2 separate regions of the Homo sapiens genome follow, and region 2 is linked to region 1. The links come from fine-mapping of genetic effects on gene expression. Tissue or cell type: thyroid. Region 1 holds a variant in brackets; the other region holds the start of a gene. All regions are shown on one strand. Distances are between the middles of the regions.

Region 1 (2,764 bases):
GTCAGAAATTACATACAAGAACTCAACACCATCAATGAACAGCATCTATTTAACATTTATAGAACACTTCACCAACTAACAGCAGAACACATATTTGTTTTCAAGTGCTCACTTATGCTGCCTAGGAAATTTTTGGTCGGTTCATTGGAATTTTCTACATAATCAACTATGTCATCTACAAATAGAGACAGTCTTATTTTTTTATTTCTTCCTTTACATATGCTTTTCTTTTCTTTTCTTTTGCTTGTTTTGGTTATTTTTTTCCTTGCCTGCTTTGTTTTTGTTTTTGCATTACTGAACTGACTGGAACTTCCAGCACTCTGTTGAATAAGAACAGTAAGAGGAGAACACATCCTTATCTCGTACCCAATCTTAGGAAAAAAGCATCATGCTTTCACCATTAGGTATAATGTTAGCTATAGATTTTTTTGTGGATTTTTTTTATCAAGTTGAGAATGTTCCCTTTTATGTTCCCTTTTATATCTATTTTTCTGAAAGTTTTTTTCATTAGTGGCTGCTGAATTTTGTCAAATGTGTGTCCTGCATCAAATAATATGACCATGTAAATTTTGTTTTTCTTAAGTCTGTTGATATGGTGAACTATACTGATTAATTTTCAAATATTGAACCAGCCTTGCATCCCTGGAATAAACATAGTTATGGTGTACATTTTTTATATATTGCTGAATTCTATTTGCTAATATTTTGTTAAGGATTTTTGTGTATATAGTCATGAGAAATATTGGCCTGAAAGTTGTTTCTTCTGTTTTGTTTTATATTGTCTGTTTTGGTATGAGAGAAAAATTAGCTTTATAAAATGAATTGGAAAGCGTTCCCTCCTTTTCTCCAAAGGTTGTGTATAATTGATGTTACTTCTTCTTTAAATATTTGGTAGCATTCTCCAGTGAAATCTTCTGGGCCTACTGACTTCTTTTTGAAAGCTTTAAAATTATAAATTCAATTTTCTTAATAGCTAAAGGGCTATTTAACTTATCTTTTTCACATTGGGTAAATTGTAGTAATTCTTGTTTTCCAAGGAAGTGGTTCACTACATCTAAGTTGTCAAATTTATGTGTGTAGAGTTGTTTATAGTAATGTATTTCATCATTTTCCTGTTGAGGTCTGCAAAATCTGTAATGATATCCCTTGTTTTATATATTGATG[T/C]TGGTAATCTATATATTCTCTCTATTCTTTCTGTCAGTCTTGCTGAAGGTTTGTCAATTTTGTTGATTTTCTCAAAGATCCAAATCTATTTTACCTATTTTTTCCATTGTTTTTCTGTCTTTAATTTTTTTTTTCCTTTTTTTGAGATGGAGTCTCACATTTGTCACCCGGGCTGGAGTGCAGTGGTGTGATCTCGGCTCACTGCAACCTCTACCTCCTCGGTTCAAGGGATTCTCCTGCCTCAGTCTCCTGAGTAACTGGGATTACAGGCGCCCACCACCACACCCAGCTAATTTTTGTACTTTTAGTAGAGACGAGGTTTCGCCATGTTGGCCAGGCTGGTCTTGAACTCCTGACCTTAGATGATCCACCTGCCTCGGCCTCCCAAAGTGCTGGGATTACAGGCATGAGCCACCACGCCTGGCCTTCTGTTTTTAATTTCATTGACTTCTGTTCTTATCTTTATTCTTTTCTTCTTTCTATTTGCTTTAGTTTTAGTTTGCTCCTCTTTTTCTAAGTTCTTGAGATATTTCTGCTATTGATTTTTAGTTTGATTTCATGGTGGTCAGAAAACACATTCTGTATGACTTCAATTATTTAAAGTGATTGAAGTTTGTTTTATGGCCCAGGATATGGTCTATGTTGGTGTACGTATTGTGAGCAAAACAAAAACAAAAACAAACAAGAACCTTAACAAACACAATTTATCCAAAAATTAACTCAAAATGGATTATATCTTCAGTGTTAAAACTATGAAATTTTAGAAAAAAACATGGGAGAAAATCTTCAGTGTCTAGGGCTAGGTAGAAATTCCTAGACTTGTTACTTAAAATGCACAATCCATAAAAGGAAAAGTTGATAAATGGAACTATGTAAAAATTTTAAAAATTTGCTCTGCAAAAAAAAAAAAAAAAGCCTAAGAGGATAAAAAAACATGTTACAGCATGGAAAACATATTTTCCAACCACATATCTGACAAAGGACTCGTACCTGAGCATATAATGAACTCTCAATATTCAACAGTAAAAAAACCGAGCAATCCCATTAGAAAATGGGAAGAAGACACGAAGAAACATATGACATAAGAGGATATATGGATGGTAAACAAGAACATGTAAAGATGCCGAACATCATTATAGCTTAGGGAAGTGCAAGTTAAGACTATATGTTATCAGTAATACTTATCATAATGACTAAAATAAAATGGTGACAACACCTAATACTGGTGAAGACAGAGAAACTGATGCTCATTCATTCCTGGTGGGATTATAAAATGGTACAGCCACTCTGGAAAATAATTTGGCAGTTTCTTAAAATACTAAACATGCAACTCTATACAAACCGGCAATCACACTCATAAGTGTTTATCACAGAGAAAGGAATACTTATATTCACATAAAAACCTGTACGCAAATGTTTATAGCAGCTTTATTCATAATATCCAAATTCTGGAAACAATTCAGATGTCTTTCAATGAATGAATGAGTGGTTAAACAGTGCCACATGCATATCATGGAATACTGCTCAGCAAAAAAAGCAAGAAGCTATTGATACATACATCAGCTTGAGTAAATTGCCAATTCATTCCATATTGTGCTGA
Region 2 (2,764 bases), 21 kb before region 1:
AAATAAGCTCAGGCATATACGGCCAGGAGCAAGGGAGGAGAGGAAACACTGAAACAACTCGGCAGAAAGCTGGCCCTTGCTATTAAAAAAAAAAAAGCACTAATTAATGAGGACGAATGAAATAGGGACACCCAGGGCTGGTAAAGGGGGTTGCTGCTTTAATATGCTGGACAGGCAGAGGGTAAACTCGGTTGTGGGTTAATTAGGTCTAACTCCAAGTCAAAGACCAGCTCCAGAGAAAAAGCAGCCTGGTTGAGAGTCTACCGGCTCAAATACACAGGAAGCCACACGATTCCAACTTGCGGCGCCAGCAGGACACTCGAGAGGAGGTGGCAGCACCGCCTGCTCGCCAGCGTCCAAGGCCAACCTCGGCAAACGTGCCCCGGCCATTCCGCACGAGCCCCGAACGCACACGCCGGGATTCCAATTCCGCGCGGGAGGAGCGACGGCAGGGAGGGCAGGGCCCAGCGCCGGCCGAGGAGCGGCTTTGTCAAAAGGCAGCTGGAAAGAACTGGCCCTGCACACGGCTGTCCCCTAAGGCGACCCTCGGGGTCAGGTCACTTCTCACGGGGCCAGCAGAGTCAGGAAGTCTGGAAACTAAGTGAAATGGGCTGGGGGGCGGCGGAGAGAAAGTGCAGAGACGCCAGGTTAATTCTCTGGTTTTGGGGGAAGGAAGGAGTTTGGTGGGGGAGCGACAAGGAATGCAGTAACCTACTTCACCCCCAGCCCCGCGGGTAGAGCCGGACTCCGCGGATGGCAGGCGGCGAGCCCGACTTCCTCCCGCGCTCCGTCCCCCCAGGCCCGGCCCGCCCCGTAGCCCTCGGCCCGGCCCGGCCCGCCCCGCAGCCCTCAGCCCGCCCCTGGCGCCTCGGGTCCCGCCGCCAGCCGGACGCGCTCCACTCACCCAGCTCCTCCGCCTGCAGCCGGAGCGGGGCGGAGACCGCGAGCAGCAAAGCCAGGAGGCCCCGCCCGGCAGCCCGCGCCAGTGCGCCGCCGCCGCGGGCGCCGGGCACCATGACCCCGCTGGGCGCCAGCTTGGCAAGCTCGGCCTCCCCTCGACGGATCCCGAGCCGCAGCTGCCCGGGCCGGGCCGCCTCCTCTGCGGACGAGCGCGGCGCCGGGACGGGGCGCAGTCGCTGCCCCGCACCGAATCCCATTGGGGCGGCTTTCAGCCCAGCCCTGCGGGGGCGTCTCCCGCCCGGCCCCGCCCCGCCCCGCACGTCGGCCCCTAGAGGAGGAAGTCGCGTTCCCAGGCAGTGACCGACGGCGAAGCCGGAGGCGAGCGAGGCGCCGCCCGCGCTCCCCTCCACGTATCTGGCGCGCCCTGCTGCGCTCCTTCCTTGCCTTCCTCCCCACCTGCACCAGTACACGTGAACCTGCTAGGCAGCAGGACACCTCGCCGCCGGACCCGCCCCTCGCCGCGTGGTGCGGGAGTCATTCCTAGATGGGCTGAGCCCGCGGCGGTGCCTTGGGAGGCTGCCCCCTCCAGGGTTTTGCCAGCCCGCGGGGATGGGCATGCCAGGGATAGCAACACCGAGGGACTCGAAATATTTTGATGATAGGATGATGACAGTGCCAAGTAGGACCTTCACTGATTTATTCACTCATTCATTCATTCATTCAAAAGTTACTCAGTTCAGCAGTGTGCTTGTCAGGAGCAGGGCTAAACCCATGTGGCACTTGCAGACAAAAATAATCAGGCAAGTATTCAATGCAAATTGCAATCAGTGACATGAAAGGTGCTGTTGAAGCACATTTAGAGAGCTGTAATTAGATGGCGGGTAACAGGGGTGAGGGCGGGAATCAGCTAGGAAAGGCCTAAGTGGCATCAAAGCTGAGATTAAAGCAGGAGCCAAAACAGACAAGTTGTGCAAAGAAGCTGAAGGAGGAAAGGGCCAGGTAGCTGGAGCACAGTGAACAGGTGGGTACACGGCCAGATGTAGAAGCTAGTGTACAGAGTAGGGGCCAGGACGTGCAGCTAAATAACCTAAAGGATGTTTAACTTGGTCCTCGGAGTAGTGAGCAGCCACGGAAGGTTCAGAAGGGGGAAGGACTCCACCCGATGATCCTCTTGAGGAGTTGCGGAGAAGGGTTTGGGGAGGACAGATTGGAGACTGGAGAATTACAGGGTTATCACCGAGTAGTTGAATAGGGTGGTGGCAGTGGAAAATGACGAGGACAGATTAGATATGTATTTTAAGGACTATCTCACGTCTCTGGTCCCCTGTAGTCCCCGTTTACTTCCTCTGCGCGCTGCCCTCACCTTCGCACCACCGCGCGGCACGCTGAAGTTTCACCTAGAGGTGCAGCGCAGGGAAGCGTGGAGGCGGAGAGGAAGCAACAGCCCCTCCAATGGCAAACATTGGCCCCTCGTGATCTTTGGATACCCTGGACAGACTCATTTCATACATGCGTTCCTTTTTTCCTCTTCCTTTTCTTTTTTTAACTAAATAAACAAGCTGATAAAATCTCAAATGAGATTGTCTTTGGGGCTTTGCTTTCTCTGAGGCAGCATATCTTAGATGAAAGAACTTGGGCTTTAGAAATGGAGGGGATCCCGGTTTGATTCTGGACCTCAGCTTTGTTGAAGAGCTGAGGTCCAGAATCAAACTGGGTATATATGTGTATATTCAGTGTATACTGAATTTGTATATTAAGTTCTATCATGTAGAGAAAGTACCTAACTGAATGTGTATATTGGGTTCTAGCATGTAGAGAAAGTACCTAATAAACGGTAGGTTTTATCATTTTTTAACAGAAAGTA

What was found. PIP is the estimated chance that this variant, and not a neighbour inherited with it, causes the effect.
Region 2: DCBLD1 starts here. The variant in region 1 is fine-mapped to the expression of DCBLD1 in thyroid (GTEx, PIP above 0.99).

What each region holds. Positions count from the first base shown.
Region 1 is chr6:117,459,872-117,462,635 of GRCh38, reverse strand. No RefSeq gene overlaps it. Among named protein-coding and RNA genes, the nearest start is that of DCBLD1, 21 kb to the left of the region's middle. The variant T/C (reference allele first, on the strand shown) is at 1,165.
Region 2 is chr6:117,481,034-117,483,797 of GRCh38, reverse strand. It overlaps DCBLD1 (discoidin, CUB and LCCL domain containing 1), which reads right to left and starts at 1,124. Exons shown (of 15, transcript NM_001366458.2): 1 at 905-1,124. The coding sequence starts at 1,016. RefSeq lists enhancers at 89-138, 169-218, 229-308 and a silencer at 669-1,248.